Regions from separate parts of the Homo sapiens genome. Here region 1 is linked to region 2. The links come from fine-mapping of genetic effects on gene expression. A gene starts in region 2. The other region holds a variant in brackets. All regions are shown on one strand. Distances are between the middles of the regions.

The links. PIP is the estimated chance that this variant, and not a neighbour inherited with it, causes the effect. A credible set is the group of variants that fine-mapping cannot tell apart.
Region 1: its variant is the best candidate, but not a certain one, in a credible set for the expression of HOXB9 in whole blood (TOPMed, PIP 0.56).

Annotation. Positions count from the first base shown.
Region 1 is chr17:48,643,602-48,655,764 of GRCh38, forward strand. LINC03057 (long intergenic non-protein coding RNA 3057) reads right to left here and starts at 3,251. Exons shown (of 2, transcript NR_186590.1): 1 at 3,004-3,251. LINC02086 (long intergenic non-protein coding RNA 2086) reads left to right here. Exons shown (of 8, transcript NR_189645.1): 1 at 1-2,761; 2 at 8,788-8,832; 3 at 9,270-9,373. RefSeq lists enhancers at 2,788-3,456, 2,895-2,944, 3,835-4,044 and a silencer at 3,165-3,344. The variant G/C (reference allele first, on the strand shown) is at 3,949.
Region 2 is chr17:48,622,155-48,630,154 of GRCh38, forward strand. HOXB9 (homeobox B9) reads right to left here and starts at 4,204. Exons shown (of 2, transcript NM_024017.5): 1 at 3,599-4,204; 2 at 1-981. The coding sequence starts at 4,115. The coding sequence ends at 746. HOXB-AS4 (HOXB cluster antisense RNA 4) reads left to right here and starts at 6,544. Exons shown (of 2, transcript NR_046611.1): 1 at 6,544-6,704. RefSeq lists an enhancer at 3,057-3,734 and a silencer at 5,145-5,300.

The sequences.
Region 1 (12,163 bases), 24 kb after region 2:
AACTAAAAGCCCTGAGATGCTTGCCCTTTGCTTTACAGACAGTGATGGCAAAGAAATACTGCCACCAGGGTGTTTTTAAAGGTGAAGGTTGACCTGATAAGCACTGAGATCAGACAAAGGAAAAAAAAAGTAAAGCATTTGGTCTTTCAGTTTTCTGGCTAAATCTGGCATCATTTTCCAGACACAAACTTCTCTGATTAATCCAAATAGCTCTCAACCTGAAGTTCAAGGAATTTGAAATCCTCTGAAATTGTGGGATTTCACAGTTCTAAAAGGAAGTCAGCTGTCACTTTCTGAGAAGCCCTGGGAGGGGAAGGAAGCAAGAGGAGGTATATGAGGAAAGGGGGTGAGAGGCCCCAGATCTAGCTCTCTAGACATTTAGTGCTGGACCCCCAAGCTCTGAAACTCAAGCTGACCCCATCTACACATTGCCAAACTGAGTAGAAAGTTGCAAGGCAGTCAAGGAGATAAATTTTATTTACTGCTTTAAGGATGAGTTTGGGTGTCTAAGCAGATTATAAATCTGGGTGTTTTCAGTATTTGTTTCTTTCTTTCAACTATTACTGATTTTTGGCCCAGAGTAGTTTCTGGGGCCCTTGGGGCAGTTAGGCAAGAGAGGGACTCAGACCTCCAGTCCCTTGATCTTGCCTTTACTTGGTGAAGAGCCCAAGATTCTCTACTGGCAGGCAAGGTCAGAACCAAGTTGGCCCTAGGCCTTGCCCCAACCCCCCAGCCCTCAGGACTCCTTTCTCTGAGACCAGGCCTCTGGCCAAACTGCAGACTCCCTCCACACCCGGTCACTGGAATAATGATGGCATTTTTGATTTCTCCCATTTTTGAAAACTATAGAAGCCCCAAGGAGGAAGGAGGTACCACTGGATCTTGGGGTGCTGGTGGGGGATTCTGGAATCAAATATCCTCTAAGCCTGTGAGGACAAGGTCTACTAGGATGACTTGGTGTCAATTACAGCTCTGAGTGCTGCCTGGATAGGTCAAATATTCCCTCCTTTCCCTCCTCATTCCTTCCGTTCAAGCCCAGAAAATTCACAGATTTTCTGTGTGGAGAGAGAGAAAAAAAATGGGCAAAACCTGGGAGTAAAAGGGAGATGAGGGAGAAGAAAATGAGGGAGAGAAACCAATAGACTAAAACAATGAAACTCTCTAACCCAACAGCACTTTAAGCTTGACTTTTAATCTGGCCAGAAAAAAAAAGAAGTTGGAGGCAGGGTGGGTGGGATGTGAAGTTCCCAGCCCAACAGATCCTCCTGTTGTCACGGGCTCTGTGCGTTCCCAGCTGGTGAGAACCCTGTCTGTCCTGGGGGTGGGAGGGATGTCCTGGGTCTTTCAAGTTGCAGTGTGGGGAGTGAGGCTCTTTCTAAGGGTCTCTGAGGTCTCCCACAACACCTTGCTTGGACTAGCAAAACCTTTCTTTGCATTTCCTCTGGGGCACTGTGTATGTGTATCCCTGTGTAGGGTGGTGTTCTAAACCACCGCAGAAGGTGAGCAATTCTCCTCCCAGCGAGCCAAAGGCTATATGTTTGGGGTGGAGGAGGCTTCATCCCTTCTGGACTGGAGAAATGGGGACTTGGAGCCAAGTGCGCCAGACTTTAGGGAAAGAGAGGAGCTCCAGCTCCAAAAGGGATTTGGAGGGAAGATCCTATCAGGAAAGGCCCCCCAGACTTGCTTCCTCAAAGGGTTAGGGAAGTGCACTGAGAAAAGAGAACTTTCACTTAACTCTTCTCCATTAGGCATCTTTGTGCTTCCATTTGTACTGGAAAGCACAGTCCTGGGCAGTCAGTTGCACATTCCGCCTCTGGTATGTGGACTATGTGAAATATACCATGCAATGTTCTACTTTGCGAGGGGGGAGGCATATAGATGAAAATATGAATTTCCCTTCTACTGCCTTTATTATTGAGCACAGTTGGGAGCACATAATTTCACATCTCTTTCGCATGTCTGTATAAATCCTCAATCTTTAAACGGTGCTTGACTACTCCGAGAGGCACAGTTGCTGTCATATAAGATTCCTAGCCGACTCCGGCGAGTTACTAATTCCTCTCAGACTCCACAATACCCACGATGCACGATGCACACCCCTTTATGCTTGCTTTTCTTTACATGCCTTTTCAAAGGCGAATAATTTTTGTATTGACCCATGAGTCAGTCCATACAGTTTGAAATCCTTTGGATGCCCTCTGCCCACTCCCATAAACAACAGGTCCCTCCACAAAAATGCACATGCCCCGTTTTTGTGAGTGTGGGTTTCAAATAAGATGGCGTCTCCTGGCATTCCTTAGATTCAGATACACGCTCTCTCAGGCAGGAGGCTGCTCACAGTCCAGAGGGGAAGAAAACCTATGAGGCCCCCAAAAGCCAAAGCAAGAGACTCCCCCAAGTATTCTGCCCCCTCCACGCCAGGAGGCAGCTAGAGAGACAGCGCGCGGGAGAGCTGATTCTGCACCTTGGGGAGCTGGGGGCTTCTGTCTAGACCAAGAGTTCCAGGCCAATTCCTAATTTCCGTTAGGAAAAGTGGCCCTTCTTCCATCCCAAGCGATTCCTCACCCCCAAGGCTGCTCAGGGCGTCTGGCCCTTGCCTCTCTCACGGCATCCGCCTGGAATCCGGGGTTGTGAGCAGGAGGCCCAGGACGCAGGGCCTCAGGCTGGGCGGGGCACTGAGCACTCGGCTCTGGGGAGCCAGGGTTTCCGGTAGAACGAGGGGAGGCGACCCCCTTTCCCCACACACACACCTGTTGGAGAGGTAGGGTCGGGTGCCAGCGGACAGGGAGGCCAAGGCGTTTTCGGGTGCGCCCCGAGGCCCTACCCGGGAAGCTGCCTCGGTCTGGAGATCAAGGTTAAGCCGGTGGCCCCGGGAAGCCCACGCCTGCCACGGGCGGTTGGTCCTGAAAGCTCGGGCCACGGGGCTGCCCAGCTTGGAGAGGGGCCTTTCACGCCGCAGTCCCCAGCTGCGAGAGGAAGGGCTGCGCCCGCCTCCTCACCTACCTCTCGGAACCACGCCGTCCCCCGCGCGTCTTCGTAGACTGCAGGAGTCCAGGGCGTCTGGGGACTGTGACGGCGCCCAAGGCGGGGGATGTGGCGGCTCTGGGTCGCCGCCTTCTGCCCCCGCCTCTGTGAGGCCTCTCGAGGCAGTGTCTGTGTCTGGGGCAGCGACGCCGACGGCGCTGGGGGCGCGAAGGGGCTCACGCTCCTGCGTTCCCCTGGCGCCGGTGAGTGGCGGGCGAGGACAGGGTCCGGGAGGGGGATAGGCGAGAGCGCTTCCTGCCTCCGCCCGGGCGGGGCTCGGCCGTCTCACCTGCCCCCACCCACGGCGCCGTCGGATCCCAGAGCGGCTGGTGAGGAGATGGGCCTGGCGCGCCGCGGGGAGGCCAGAGGCGCGGAGGAGCAGCGCCCAGATGGCCGGAGAGAGCAGAGAGAGAGAGAAGAGAGAGAGAAGAGAGAGAGAGAGAGAAGAGAGAGAGAGGGAGAGAGGCAGAGAGGGAGAGAGGGAGGGAGAGAGGGAGGGAGGGAGGGAGGGAGAGAGAGAGAGAGAGAGAGAGAGAGAGAGAGAATATGAGAATATGAGAATATAAAAGGCAAGAGAGAAGCAGATCCAAGGGCGCGCCCAGAGAAACATCAAATGCACAAATAGACAAAAGAGGTAGAGGAGAAAGCTGAGTCCCAGGGGCTGAAAGAAGCCATGGGCGTCTGAAGCGAGCGACAAGTTATCCTTGGGAGTTGGAAATGTGAGAGGGAGGGGCGAGGCCGAAGGAGGCTGAGAAGGGGAGGGGGCGCTCACACCCTGGGCGGGAGGCGACTGATCCACACTTAGGGCTCCGAATCCGGAGAAAGAGAGCGCCGGACCCTCCTCCGCCCACCTCCCGCCCCAGCCGCAGCCCAGCGACTTCCCGCCATCCTCGGCCACCGAGCGGCTCCTGCCTGGGGTTGTTC[G/C]ACCGGGATGGCTGCACCAGGCTGAAGGTTGTCCCTCTACCTGCCTCCTTTCTTCTGTTCCCTGTGCCTTACATGGGTTCCTCCCTATTCTATGAACCCAGAGGGAACGACCTTGGCCAAGGTTAGAGAAGGAGCTTGAAAGTTTCACTTTCCATCTTAGCCCTCAGGACGCCTTTGCGTTTTGGCCCTTCGTTAGCGTGCTATCCTGGAATTGCAGGCTCTTCTCTTTATTTCTGAGACCCAAATAGAGGTTTAACCTCCTTAAAATCAGTGAAACTACGACAAACAGTGGCATTCCTGGCTGTCTGGTCTCTAAGGAGTGCCCCCCCTCCCTGACCTCAGCCCTGAGACCCTGCTTCCTCCTCAACCTGCATGGGACTGGGGACACCCCCTCACAATCCAGTCCCTTCCTGCAGGTGGTTGTCCAGGGGGCATGTAGAGGTGTGCCTGAGCTCTGTGTCCTAAGCCTGGCTCTGCCACTGACTTCAGCCCCCACCCCTTCTCCTTTTAGGCCTCAGTTTTTCCTCTGTAAAATGGGCAGAGTGATTTTACAAGTGATTTTACCAAGTGAGAACTGTTGAAATATCTTACTATAATTGTGGATTTGTCCATTTCTCCTTTCAATTCTATCATTTTCGGTGCTTCATATATTTTTGAAGCTCTGTTATTAGGTGTGTACATTTAAGGTTGATGTGTCTTCCTAGGTGTGTACCACATTTAGATTTAGGATTGATGTGTCTTCTTTTTTGAGATGAAGTCTTGATCTGTCACCCAGGCTGGAGTGCAATGGTGCAATCTCGGCTCACTGCAACCTCCGCCTCTTGAGTTCAAGCGATTCTCCCACTTCAGCCTCCCGAGTAGCTGGGACCACAGGTGTGTGCCACCACGCCCAGCTAATTTGTGTAGTTTTAGTAGAGACGGGTTTTCACCATGTTGGCCAGGCTGGTCTCGGCTCCTGACGTCAGGTGATCCGCTTGCCTCAGCCTCCCAAAGTGCTGGGATTAGAGGTGTGAGCCACGGCTCCTAGCCATGATATGTCTTCTTATGCTTTGCTTCTGCAGCCTCCTCTCATTTGCAGGTTCTGTTGAGCTTGAACCGCTGAGAGAAAAATGCATCCAAATGGGAATTTTATTCTATATCCACGTAAACATGAATATAGAAATATGACAAAACTAAATTTTGCTTCCAAAATGTTTTTGTTTTGTTTTGTTTTTGTTTTTTTGTTTGTTTGTTTTTTCTGAGACAGAGTTTCGCTCTTGTTGCCCAGGCTGGAGTGCAATGGCACAATCCCAGCTCACCGCAACCTCTGCCTCCCGGGTTCTCCTGCCTCAGCCTCCCTAGTAGCTGGGATTACAGGCATGTGCCACCATGCGCAGCTAATTTTTTGTATTTTTAATAGAGACGGGGTTTCTCCATGTTGGTCAGGCTGGTCTCGAACTCCCGACCTCAGGTGATCCGCCCGCCTCAGCCTCCCAAAGTGCTGAGATTACAGGCATGAGCCACTGCACCCGGCCAACGCCCAGCTAATTTTGTATTTTTAGTAGAGATGGGGTTTCTCCAGTTCGTCAGGCTGGTCTCGAACTCCCTACCTCAGGTCATCCGCCCGCCTCAGCCTCCCAAAGTGCTGGGATTACAGGCGTGAGCCACCATGCCCGGCCCCAGAATTTTTTCTATTTGGGTCTATTTTTCTACTTTTTCTTCACTTTTTGTTGATATATAGTATTATAGAACCTAATATTAAACCTCTGGCTCAATATATTTTTGCATAGATCCCATCTGTGTAACCACCACCTAGATCAAGATGTTTCCGGCTTACCAGAAGGCCCCATTGTAACTCCTACCAATCAATAGCTCTCTGGTCAATCCCTCCATACCCCCTAACAATTATTTGGCTTTCTATCACCATAGATTAGTTTTGTCTAATCCTTCAACTTCATATAAACATAAGTATGTATTCTTTTGTCTGGCTTCATCTGCTCAGTATTACTTGTGTGGGACTCATCCATGGTGTTGTATATGGCAGCAGTTCATTCATTTTATCATTGTGTCATATTAGTTGTATGAATATATTACAATGTATTTAACCTGTTTGGCTCTTGGTGGACTTAAGGGTTATTTTCAGTTTGGAGCTATAATGAAAAAGCTGTTATGAACATTACATCTGTGTCTTTTGATGGATGCCTGGACTTGGAGACCCAGGAGTGGAAATGCTGGATAACAGAGTAGGAAAATGTTTGTTTGTTAAATAATGACAGTTTTCCAAAGTGGTTGACCAGTTTACACTCCCACTAGTAATGTGTGAGATCCATAGAGAAGTAAGCTTTACAAAAAAAAAAAATGACAGAGAGGACTCAGGATCCAGTTACTGCATATCCCTACCAACACCTGACACTGTCTCTCTTCATTCTGGTGGGTTTGTGGTAATCTTGCAATGAGGTTTTTTGCTTGTTTGCTTTTCGGAGTTGTTTTTTTTTTTTTTTTTTGTACATTTAAAAAATTGTGGTAAAAACATATAATAAATTTTACCATCTTAACCTTGTTTAAGTGTACAATTCAGTATGTTAAGCACATTCACACTGTTGTGCCACAGATCTCTAGAATATTTCCATCTTTCAAAACGGGACTCAATACCCACTGAGTAAAAACCGCCCCCCCATTCCCCTCTTTCCCCAGCACCTGGCAATTATCATTTTACTTTGTTTCTATAAGTTTGAATACTTTAGATACCTCATATAAGTGGAATCATACTGTATTTGTCTTTTTCTGACTGATTTGTTTCACTTTGCATGTCTTCAAGTTTCACCCACACTGTAGCATGTGACAGGATTTCTTTATTTTTAAAGGCTAAGTAATATTCCATTATATTTATATACTACATTTTGCTTATCCATTCATCCATTGATGGCCGTTTAGTTTGCTCCCACCTCTTAGCTGTTGTGAACAGTGCTGCAATGAATATGGGTGTGCAAGTATCTCCTCAAGCTCTCTCTTGCTCTCAGTCCTTTTGGGTATATATTAAGAAGTAGTATTGGCCAGGTGCAGTGGCTCATGCCTGTAATCCCAGCACTTTGTGAGGCCGAGGCAGGTGGATCACCTGAGGTTAGGAGTTCGAGACCAGCCTGACCAACATGGTGAAACCCCATCTCTACTAAAAACACAAAATTAGCCGGGCATGATGGCGGGTACCTGTAATCCCAGCTACTCGGAAGGCTGAGGCAGGAGAGTCACTTGAACCTGGGAGGCGGTGGTTGCAGTGAGCCAAGATCGCACCATTGCACTCCAACCTGGGCAACAAGAGCAGAACTCCATCTCAAAATAAATAAATAAATAAATAAATAAATAAATAAATAAATAAATGAAGTAGTATTGCTGAGTCATATGGTAATCCTATTTTTAATTTTTCTGAGGAATCTGCATACTGTTTTCCGTAGTGGCTGCACCATTTTACAGTCCCACCAACAGAGCACAGCGTACAAATTACTCCACATCCTTGTCAGCACCTGTTAATTTTTGTTTTGTTTTGTTTTGTTTTTTGATAGTGTCTATCCTAATGGGTGTGAGGTGATGGCTCACTGTAGTTTTTTGTTCTTTGGCTTTTTTTCTTTTCTTTTTTTCGAGACAGAGTCTCGCTCTGTTGCCCAGGCTGGAGTGCAGTGGCGCAATCTCGGCTCACTGCAACCTCCGCCTCCTGGGTTCACGCCATTCTCCTCCCTCAGCCTCCCGAGTAGCTGGGACTACAGGCACCCACCACTACGCCTGGCTAATTTTTTGTATTTTTAGTAGAGACGGGGTTTCACCGTGTTAGCCAGGATGGTCTCGATCTCCTGACCTCGTGATCCGCCCACCTCGGCCTCCCAAAGCGCTGGGATTACAGGCTTGAGCCACTGGGCCTGGCCTTTTTTTTTTTTTTTTTTTTAAGATAGGGTCTCTCTCTGTCACCTAGGCCAGAGTACAGTGGCACAATCATAGCTCACTGCAGCCTTGAACTTCTGGGCTCAAGTGATCCTCCCGCCTCAGCCTCCCAAGTATCTGGGACTACAGGCGTGTGCCACCACTCCTGGCTTATTTAAAAAAGCACTGGGATTACAGGCATGAGCCTCCATGCACAGCTGTGGGAAGAGTTCTGATACAAATTCAATTTCTTGCCGGGCACAGTGGCTCACGCCTGTAATCCCAGCACTTTGGGAGGCCAAGGCAGGTGGATCACCCGAGGTCTGGAGTTTGAGACCACCTTGACCAACATGGAGAAACACTGTCTCTACTAAAAATACAAAATTAGCCGGGCGTGGTGGCACATGCTTGTAATCCCAGCTACTCGGGAGGCTGAGGCAGGAGAATCACTTGAACCAGGGAGGCAGAGGTTGCTGTGAGCCAAGATCGCGCCGTTGCACTACAGCCTGGGCAACAAGAGCAAAACTCCGTCTCAAAAAAAAAAAAAAAATTCAATTTCTTTTCATACATAAGACTATTCAGATTATATATTTCTTCTTGGGAAAGCTTTGGTAGTTTGTGTTTTTCAATAAATTTGTTAATGTATTCCATAGTGTTGAGTTTATTTGCATATAGTTGTTCCTAATATTTCCTTAGTATCTTCTTTTTAATGTCTATATGATCTGTAGTGATGTTCATTCATTCCTGATAATGGTAATTTGTGTTTTTTCTTTTTTTCTTGATCAGTCTGCCTTTTAAAAAACTGGCTGTTCTTAAAACTGGCTGGTTTCATTTTCTGTATTGTTTACACATTTTCTATTTCAGTAATTTTCACTCATCTATATTATTTCCTTCCTTCTGCTTACTTTGGGTTTAATTTGCTCTTTTATTTTTTTCTAACTTCTTAAGGTGCAAGCTTAAAGTGTTGCTGCCAGACCTTTCTTCTCTTCTAATGTAAGTATTTGATGCTATAATGTCCCTGTGAGCACTTCCTTAACTGCATTTACACTTTGTGACATGTGGTATTGTTCAATTTCCTTTAGTTCAAAATATTTTCTAATTTTCTTCATGCTTTCTTATTTGATCTACGGGTTAAGTTTGTGTTGTTTCATTTCCAGATGTTTTGGCTATTGTTGTTATTGATTTTCAGTTTACTTCTGTTCTGGTCAGGGAACATAATTTATATAATTTCAATCCTTCTCAATTTATTGAGAATTAATTTATGGCTCAGATTATGGTCTATTTTGGTGAATGTTCCATGTACACTTGAAAAGAATGTGGACTCCGCTATTGCTGAGTGGAATATCTGTAAAGATCGATAAGGTCAAAGTATTTGATGTTGTTCAAATCTTCTGTATACTTACTGATTTTCTTTTTACTTCTTCTATCAGTTACCAAGTGAAGAATGTTGAAATATCCAACTATAATTTGTGGATTTCTCCTTTCAATGCTATCATTTTTGGTGCTTCATGTATTTTTGAAGCTCTATTATTAGGTATGTACCACATTTAGGATTGATATATTTTCTTAGTGAAATGACCCCTTTGTCATTATGTAATGCTCTTCTTTGTCCATGGCTATAGTCCTTGTTCTAAAGCGTAACTTATTTTCTAATATATATATATATATATATATATATATATACATATATATACTAGAATATATATACAATAGATTATGTATCTATATTCTATATATGTATATATATACTAGTATGTATATGTGTGTGTGTGTGTGTGTGTGTGTGTGTGTATATATATATATATATATATATATATATATATATATATATATGGCCAGCGTGGTGGCTCATGCCTGTAATCCCAGCACTTTGGGAGGCCGAGGTGGGCAGATCTTTTGAGTCCAGGAGTTTGAGACAGACTGGCCAACATGGCAAAACCCCACCTCTACTAAAGTATACAAATTATGCCAGACGCGGTGGCTCACACCTGTAATCACAGCAGTTTAGGAGGCCGAGGCGGGTGGATCACTTGAGGTCAGCAGTTTGAGACCAGCCTGGCCAACATGGTGAAACCTCATCTCTACTAAAAATACAAAAATTAGCCTGGTGTGGTGGTGCATGCCTGTAATCCCAGCTACTCTGGAGACTGAGGCAGGAGAATTGCATGAACCCAGGAGGCAGAGGTTGCAGTGAGCCGAGATGGCACCATTGCACTCCAGCAATAGAGCGAGACTCTGTCTCAAAAAATAAAAATAAAAATAAAAAAATAACCGGGCGTGGTGGCGTGTGCCTGTAATCCCAGCCTCTGAGGAGGCTGAGGCACAAGAATCTCTTGAACCTGGGAGGTGAAGGTTGCAGTGAGCCATGATCACCACCACTGCACTCCAACCTGGGCAACAGAGATCCTGTCTCAAAAAAATATATATATATATCATATTAATATAGTCACTCAAACTTTTTTTTGATGTGAATGGGAATTTTTATCCTTTTATTGTTGATCTATCTGTGTCTCTATATTTAAAAGCGATTTATTGTGGGCAGAATATGGTTGAGTCTTGTGTTTGTTTGTTTGTTTGTTTGTTTTTGAGATGGAGTCTTGCTCTGTCACCCAGGCTGGAGTACAGTGGTGCAATCTCGGCTCACTGCAAGCTCCGCCTCCCGGGTTCATGCGGTTCTCCAGCCTCAGCCTCCTGAGTAGCTAGGACTACAGGCGAGTCTTGTGTTTTTATTCAGTCTGACAATCTCTACTCTTATATTGATATTTAAACCTATTGACTTGGTTAAGTTGAAATCTACCATCTTGCTATCTGTTTTTTATTTATACTATCTGTTATTTGTTCCCCTTTTCCTCTTTTTCTGCCTTTTTTTAGATTGAATATGTTTTAAGATTTCTTTTTGTTGTTGTTGTTTTGTTTTTGAGACGGAGTTTCATTCTTGTTCCCCAGGCTAGAGTGCAATGGCACAATCTTGGCTCACTGAAACCTCCGCCTCCTGGGTTCAAGCGATTCTCCTGTCTCAGCCTCTGGAGCAGCTGGGATTACAGGCGCATGCCACCATGCCCGGCTAATTTTTGTATTTTTAGTAGGGATGGGGTTTCACCATGTTGGCCAGGCTGGTCTCGAACTCCTGACCTCAGGTGATCTGCCAGCCTCGGCCTCCCAAAGTGCTGGAATTACAGGTGTGAGTCACTGGGCCTGGTCAGGATTTCTTTCATTTCAACTAACTGTTGGCTTATTAACCCTACTTTTTTGTTTTAATTTTTAGTGGTTACTGTTATTTTAATGTATTAGTCAGATTTTTCCAGAAAAACAAAACCTATAGGAGATAGATAGGTAGATAGATAGATAGATAGATAGACAGACAGAGGAGGATTTACTATAAGGAATTGGCTTGCATGATTATGGAGGCTGAGAAGTCCCAAGATCTGCAGTTGACAAGCTGGGGACCCAGGAGCATCAGTGGCATAACTCCAGTCTGAATCTGTGTCTAAAGGCTGGAGAAGATCAGTGTTCCAGCTCAAAAACATTCAGGCAGGGAGAGCCTTCCACTACTGGCAGGAGCGCCTTTTTGTTCTTGTCAGTTCTTCAATCGATTGGATGTGGTCCACCCATATTAGGGAGGGCAATGTGCTTTACTCAGTCTATTGATTCAAATAATGTCATGCAGAAACACCCTTGTAGACGTACCCAGAATAATGTTTAACTGAATATCTGGCACCCCATGGCCTAGTCAAGTTGACACATAAAATTAACCATCACATTTGAGATTTATAATTTGCATCTTTAACTTATCACGGTCTATCTGCAAAGAATATTATATCACTTAGCTGGGCGTAGTGCTGTGTGCCTATAGTCCCAGCTACTCAGGAGGCTAAGTGGGGAGGATTGCTTGAGCCCTGAAGTTCGAGGCTGCAGTGAGCTGCGATCACATCACTGCTCTCCAGCCTGGGCTACAGAGAAAGAGCTTGTCTCTAAAAAAATTAAAAATAAAATAAAAAGAATATTACCTCATGTATGGTGATACAATAGTATACTTCTATTTCCTTCTCTTTTGTGGCTATTGCTGACATATAATTTATCTGTAGCTATGAGCCCTGCAGTACATTGCTATTATGTTTTGCTTAAATAGTAAATTGTCTTTTAAATATATTAAAATGAAATAAGGTGTTTTATATTTATATGCATATTTAACATTTGTATACTGCAGGTATGCTGGCGACAGTTTCTTTTAGCTTTTGTCTGAAATAGTCATTTAAAGGTAAAACATTTTAAAACTTTATAATTTGCAATAATATTATACTTATGAAGAATTACAAAATTGCCC
Region 2 (8,000 bases):
CTTCATAAAACCACGTGCTGCCTTTTCTTGTACTTTCTAGCCCACCGGCTTGGGGGCTAGGTTTGCTCCATCTTCCCCATGGCCCTTGGCCTGAGAATAGTTGGCAACTCCATGGGAATGGTATGGCAATGCTGCAGCCTTTGGGCTGCAACACCTCACTCAGGAGTCTGCCTCTAGACATCTCCCTGGTGGGTATTTGCATTAGGGGTAGAACCCGGGCTTGCCTGACAGTCTGAGGGCTGTTTTGCCAAATTTGGTGTGCGATGGTCTGCAACTGGAGTGTCACCTCACTTGACTGAATGGTGGTTGTGAGCTCACCCCATTACTGTGTGTGGATGTCTGCTGAGCTGTGTAGAGTTGGAGTGTCCCTGGGTGACTTTTGGGTGGGTGTAGAGAAGAAACAGGCAAGCTGGAAGTGAGGGGCTAGGACTTCCCAGAAAAATTACAGGGCATACTAGGAGCTTGACTGGGGTCTCTCTTTCCTTGTGGCCCATCACATTCTTAGGAACCAACTATTTCTATCTTCTAAATCAACAAAACTTTCTCCTGACACCTAGAGAGAAGAGAGAGACAGGTAAGGGCAAAGGAAAGGAGGGAGGTTCTAGGTGCAGATAAAGGACTTGGAAGAGAGACTCCCTTCCCCATTCACTTGAATACATCCCAGACAGCACTGGCTTTGCAGTCGTCACATAACTAAGAGTGAGATGGGGAAGAGCTAGGGAGGACTGGGGGTAATCTTTAATCTTTACTCTTTGCCCTGCTCCTTATTCATTTTCTTCATTTTCATCCGCCGGTTCTGAAACCAGATTTTGACTTGTCTCTCACTCAGATTGAGGAGTCTGGCCACTTCGTGCCTACGGTCCCTGGTGAGGTACATATTGAACAGAAACTCCTTCTCTAGCTCCAGCGTCTGGTATTTGGTGTAGGGACAGCGCTTTTTCCGGGAAGAGCGAGCGTGCAGCCAGTTGGCGGAGGGGTTGGCTGAAAGAGAAGCAGCGATAGAATCAAAGAAAGGAAGGGGGTGAAGGGCCCCAGATCAAGAGGGCACTCCCTTGGTCTCCACTCCCCATCTTGCACTGGAGAAGAGGCCACCTGGGTCTTCAAGCTCCCAGGAAGGGTGTCACAGATGGGCCAGCCATTGCTATAGACACCTCCAGGTGAGAGGCTGTGTGGAAAGGATGGAGCCAAACGTGGGCCCAGGCTTCCTCAGCACTTCCAAAGCTCTGCCTACATCAAGTTCCCTCTCAATTTTTCTCTACTTGGGTCCAAACTGCTTAGGACTCAGGTCAGAGTTCAGCATGGTTGAAGTCCCACCAGCAGCACTCCCAGGCTGACTAGGGGTGGGTGGCTGACCTGAAGGGTCCTGGCTCTAGGAGGTGAGAGGAGGAGTTGGGTGGGGAAGTGAGATGTCTGTTCAGTCACTGCATTTGGGGTGTCACTTCACCCCAAGAGACCTCTCAGCCCTTCAGTCCAGTCCCAATATCCCCTGCCTTGATCACAAACAAGCTTGTGTCTCTAGACCACATGGCAGCAGGCATGTGTGTCTGCGTAGAAATCTCCCCCCCTGCCACCACCACACACCACGAATATGGGTCTGCACTTAGAGCCACAAACAGCCAGCACACTCCAATTCACACGCAATGCAATTGCAACCATTTATCAACTCCAGCTTATGGACAGGGGAGCACTGGGGGCTCACAGATAACTTATGGTTGCAATAGTCTCTCTCCTTTTCAGCTCCTGCTCAGCTCACAGTTTGGTTAACGCAAGTGCAGGGAAATTAGGGAATAAAATTGCTCCAGTCCCAAGGTGGGGAGCCAGGGGTGATGTGGAGGTAAAAGGAAGCCCTTCACAGCACACCTAGCCTTAATTGATCCTATGTGGGGGCTGGAGGGGAGAAGAGGGTAACCGAGTGGAAGAGAGGAAACAAAAATATATACAGGCTTCTCTTCTTACCTTCTCTCCCCCTACTCTGGAACTCAAAAAAGTTGCCAAATAAAGCTAAGCCAATTAAAAATAACAGCCACCAGCTACTAGCTTCCTTCTCCCCAAGTGAAAAACACTGGATTTTTTTATATAAAAAATTTGGTTCATCCTACACTAAGTACCGTGTCTTACCAATTTGCAGCGCTATTTCCTTAATGTGATTGCCTGGGATGGGACCCGCAGCCGCATTAAATATGAAAGAGGGAAAAAACTGTTAATAATTGATCCTAGCCAAATGGCTGCCTTGCCATAATGGGCTTTTCAGGCAGAATTTGGGGGTTTAGGGTGGGGGATCTGTTTGGGAGTGTGCGGGGAGGGTTGGGGAAGAATGTGTTCCCTAAATGCCAGCTCTTAGGATTCCACCTGGCAGGTTGGAGGTGACAGGACCCTGCAAGGAATGGGGCTGCTCTTTACTCTCCAGCAGGCAAGGATGCTCTAAAGGGCCCTGGGGCCACTCCGTCAATGGGAAATCTAGCAGGGCAAGGAGAGACTAAAACATCCCTACTTCCCAAAAAGAGTAAGAAACGAGGACCTGATCCACCAGCCTGCGAGTCATTGTTTGAGGCTGAGTTCCCTCACCGATGAGCCCTTCTCAACCTTAAAAATAAATAATAGGAGAACCCTCTCTTCTCATCTAGTAGCACCTCCTGAAAATCAGCCAGACTTGGCGTTCTGGCCGGGGTGCTTTTGAGGAGTGGGAGGTGACGGGAAACTACCCACAAAGGGTAAAGTTCTCCGCCTCTCTGCAACTCTCTCTTCCCCCCACCCCTCCTCTCCCCGGGGTCCCTTCGAGATGCCCCGATATTCGGAAGCGATTCCCCGACTCCCCAAGAGGCGGACAGCCCGGGCTGGGGCTCGGGAGCCCCGCAGAGAGCAGCGGGGGACCGCAGAAAAGGAAGCGGTAGCCCCTGCGAGGACGCCGAGGAGGAGAGGGGCCACCGGAGGGAAGGCTCCCGGGGAGGGGCCGGCGCATCCGGGGAGGGGGCTCAGTCACCGCGTCCTGGGCTTCCCCCGCCCCTCCTGTCGCCGGTTGCGGACTCTGCGCGGCTACAGCGCGAGATCTGCTAGGAACAATCCTCCGCCAAGCTGTTGCATCGCAAATAAAATCCTAATGAGCTCCCTCCCCCTTCCCCTTGGCCGGCTTTTACGGTCTGCGCGTGGCGCGGGGAGCTCTGCCAGCCGCACGGCCCCGGGCAGCCCAGTGCGCTCCGGCCCTTGCCCTCGCCGGCTCTCGGCCTCGCTGGCCGCTGGCCCCGGCCCCCGCCAGCTCCTCTCCCGGCCGTCGCCGGTCTCTGGCCGGGCTTTCAGCTGGGGCCTCCGGGAGAGAGGGGGAAAGAGGGCCGAGAGAGCTGCAAGTCGATCCCCGAGCCCCTGTTCCCCGCAGGACTTGGAGAAGTGGGGGCAGCGCTCCTCTGGCGGCCTCAGTCTCCCCTTCTAGAGCACGCAGCTTTCCCCTTCCCTCCGTCTTTCCTTCCTCTCCCCTCCTCCTCCCGGCCCGCTCTCCGGCCACCGCCGCAGTTTCCCTTCACATTGTCCGCAGTTTATTGCCTTTCCCCTCCCCGCCCCCCTCCTGGCCTTCGGCCTGGGTATTTCCTCACTTTTTATAACTTACTTTGATCCGGCCTCTCTTTGTCCTCGCTTCCTTCGCAAATTTTATTGTCCCCGTAGCCGGGTCTTTGATTAGACAGCACGGCCTCCCTGCCCGCCGAAGTTTCCAAACTGTACTCGGGCGTGCCCTGTTTGAGCAGCTCCCCAGGCGCGCCCAGCAGCGGCTCCGCCTTCACCGCCGCCTGGCCCTGCCCCGGGGCCGCTTCGCCGCGCGGCGCCGGCTCCAGCCAGGTGCGGAGGTACCTGCTCTCGGCCGGCGGGACGCCCTGGGGCTGGATGTAAGGGTGGTAGACGGACGGCAGGCTCCCGGACGCGTGCGGGCTCAGCGGCGCCCAGGAGGCGCCGAACACCGGCGCTTTGGGCTGGAAGCTGCACGAGGGGAACTCCAGGTGCTCCGCGTGGCCCGGCTGCCGCGAGCTCGCGTACTGGCCAGAAGGAAACTTGGCTGGAGGCGCGTCCTCACTCTCGTGACTTATGATCGAGTCGACATAATAGCTGCTAAGCGTCCCAGAAATGGACATTCTCAGACATTATCCGGGCGCTTGCAGGGGGAAGGGAAGCGCTCGCGCGGCGGCGCCCAAGCAGGGAGAGGTGGCACCCGGACCGGTGTGAGGGCTTTCGGACGCGACCCCCCCAGCCCCCCACCCTCCCACCCCCACCCCCTGCTCAACTTCTCAGCCAACAAAGTACAGTGGAGCAGCCCGTCTCAGCTCTCCTTGCAAAATGATTGGTCAAAGTTTTTCCGACTGCCTGATAAAGCGTCAGCTCCGACATAAATCAATCGGGCGAGGGGGCTGCGCTCTCGCTGTCATCCGTCCGCACCGCACTCCATATCGAGGATGGATTGTTTTATGCTGATGCAATGTGCTATCACGTCAGGGCTCCGGCGGCCACGTAACCTCAGCCCCAGCTACCGGCCGCCCGGTCCCCCCCTCCCGCTGCAGGAAGGGGGGCAGTTCTCAACATGGGGCGGCGGGGGCGGAGGAGAGGCGGAGGGAAGCGGCGGGCTGCCTTGGGAGGGACGCAGGCTGTAGAGCCCTCTCCCCAGGCGGGTCGGGGAGGGAGGGAGAGCAAGGGCGGAGGGAGGGAGAGAGCCCCAGCCCGGGGAGAAGCCATAGAGGCCCGAGAGGATACTGGAAGAGGAGGTGCTCCTGTCCCCCCACACACACCTCCACCCCGCAGGCCCTCATTTCCTCTTCTCTTTCCCCTTGACAAAAGATGTTTATTAAACAACAACAGCAGCAGCAATCCACAGGAGATGAAGTAAAATGATGAGGGGAAAAGTTGGGGATTTTAGGACGTTGTCCGCTTTGGAGGGGGCTCTCCTTGCACTCTTTGTAGAGATTTACATGACTGCGAGCTTCCCTGGGCCCCTCAGTAGCTGAGGGAGGAGGAGAGAGGTGAATAAAACGACTGAGTGTCCAAGAATCCACTATCTGTCCTGAAATTAGAAACTACTTGAGGTTAAAGGGATCCATCAGGTCCCGGAAACGTGAGCCTAGGAAAGAGTTTAATACAAGGAACCAGAGCGCCTTTACATTTATTGGGCCTTTCTCTGACTCTGGCCAGAAGGATGGATTTAAGATGGTGGTGGTGACGTGGGGGGTGGGGGTGAGGGAAGCCATTTCTCCTTTTCTCCACTGAATAACCACCCAGGCCCCTAAATTTGCCCTGATGAGGGAGCTAAATAGGAGAAAGGGTTAAGGCCACTTTCCTGAGGTGTGACCAGAGCAGAGGCCTGGGAAAGGATCCCCAGTCAGCAAGGGAAGGGGTCCCAAGTTATCTCCCCTTCCATCCAAAGAGGAAGGAGCCTGGGCTGAGTTTTCAGCCCTCCTGTACTACTCCTCTCACCTGAGGCTCCTGCTCTGGAGATTTCCAAACACCGATATAGGGGCCAGTGTGGACAGCGAGCCCATGGTCAGTCTCTTCCCCTCACTGCCTTACCCCCTGCAGACCCCTTCATTGGAGCTTCCAAATAGCCCTTTTTATATATATCTATTCTGTGGCCCTGCACAGGGACTCCCCCGGGGCCCACCGACTGGCTTCCTCGCTCCTCTCCCAGCCCCTGCTCCTCAGCTTCTGCCCTGGTTGCAGTCGCCTCTCCTGGCACTTGGGGAGGTGTGACCCCTGGACAGACCCAGTTCTCCTCTGGTTAGGCTCAGGGGTAGATTGGGGTGGATTTCTCGGCAACTCTCTGACTCTGAGTCCTAATAAGGCAGGCTGCCCTCAGTCCGGTCCTTTTAGCAAAAGAGGGGCCACTCTAACTTGAGTCCGTATCTTTTTGGCCACCTACCCCTCTGCCTTGTAGAAGGCTGCGGATCACCTCCCACACAGGCACACACTCCCACCCGCTTGTCTTTCCAAATGAAGCCATCTCGTGTCATTACACGTGAAATACGAGGGTGAAGCGCCATATTTCTTCACATTATGGCGATTTCAAAATGATTTTTTAAAGATCAATGCCGGCGCCCATCTGGCCCCCTCCTTTCCCACCCCTGCTCTCCGAGGGTGACAGCCCGGCAGATCCGTAACCAAACAGCATGAAGGTCTGCCTTTTCCATAGGACCCAAGTGGGGAAACAAAAATCCGATGCAAATTCTTCCAAGCAGAGGTTGGACGCTTGGGAAAGTCGAGGGAGCTCCCCGGACTCACCAGCGAAAAAGCTGGGCACTGAGCGAATGAATCACAGTTAAGGCAAAGCACCTGTTCTCAATTTGCCAGCCCTATGAAGTCTGCTGTTGGCTTTACCTGTCATAAATACACTCTTCAGGAAAAAAGATTCCCTCCCCCGCCATAAATAATGGTGTTATGAAGCATGGTGGGCTGAGTATATGATTTCTGTAGTATATAAATTAGGGCCTAAAAGGACATGTTTACTACGGACTGGGGTTTTTTTATTTATTGAAAAGTCACAGCGCTGGGCTGTCCTTAAGACCCAAGCAAAGCAGGCACTGCGCTCTGACTGCCGTCTTCCTGGTTCCCCTTCCCTCTCCTGCCCTGACTTTGCAGCTGCCTCTCTGCAACAAGAGAGGAGTCAAGAGGACCACTCAGTTTAGGGAAGAAGTTAGAGGAAGAAGAACACTTGGGCTGATGGCTTGTGCTCTACAAGGGTGAGTTCTCCCAGCAGACAAGATTTGGGTTTGTGGGTTGCTGTCTGTCTGAGGAGTTGCCCTTTATTCCCTGGTGGCTCCTGAGTGCTGGGTGAGAAGGGGACTTAGGCCTCTTTTCTGAGATCGGAACTTAGCCTTTGCTCATGAAGAAGCTGGAGAGTGGAGACAATTTTAAAATGACAGGTTTTGGAGGTCTTGGTCTTCTCAGGGAGCAATGACTCCAGAGGAAAGAGAATGAACTGGCCCCTAAGCCCTGTAGTCTGCATCCCAGCTCTTTGCCGTCCAGGTAAATGCACCAAGCAAGGAGTCCCACCCCAGCCAAGCTTTCTGGAAAGCACTGCTGCCCCAAACTGGAGTTCAACTCCAGCTCAGGCAAATGATTAAAGGGTCAGCTGAGAGACTGTGGACTCCCTCCCACCAAAAAAGCCTTGTTTTCTCCCCAGACAATGGTACCCACCATGAAGGAGGATAGCAAACAGGATTGTGGCTCCTGGAGCCCAGCTTCCAAAGACACTTAGTAAAGGGGTTGCTTCAGTGGGGGTCACCTTATCCTAAGAGAGCAAAACTGCTCCATACCCCACCCCCAATCCTAAACAGAAAGAAGGAAAACCCTGCCTTCCCTTGCAGCCTTTTGCCATTCCCTGCACTGGAGCCTCGCCTGAACACAGCTGGGGCCAGTAGCTGGTAGCTTGGAGAAGGGCAAGCAGGGAAAAAAGCGCAGCTCCTGGCCACACTGGGGCCCAGAGCAGCCAACAGTGAGGCCGAGGTTTGAAGAGCAGAGGCCGACCAGCCGGTGAGTGCCTATGCTGTGGGGGTGACTTTTGGAAGGGTCCTTGTCAGTAAGAAGAGAGAGAAAATCTAGAGGAAGGGAAGGAAATGGGAGAAGAAAGAAAAACAATAAGTGAGAATGGGGAAAAATAGTTTGTTTTTAATTAATAAGCTTAGCTGAAATTTACGCGTGTTTAATGTAAATAGATGTGTGTGTCCTATATGTATATTTCAAATCAATATTTCTGTATGGGGAACCCAGTGTGCAAATGCACTCTGCTCTATACTGTATATAGAATATGTAATAAATAAATCTGCCCAACTATGAAACTTGCTGTGCTTGGGCGTTCGTGTATGCAGGATCTAATCGTGCATATGTGGATGCATGCATAACCTCTGTGAGTGATGGAGGTTTCTGATTCTGCTCGTGTAAGAAGATCAGTTACCCAAAAGGTTGTGTGTACATTTTTATAACCATCACACACCTATGGAAAAGGCAAAAGCTTGGGTATTTGTGTACTTGAATTA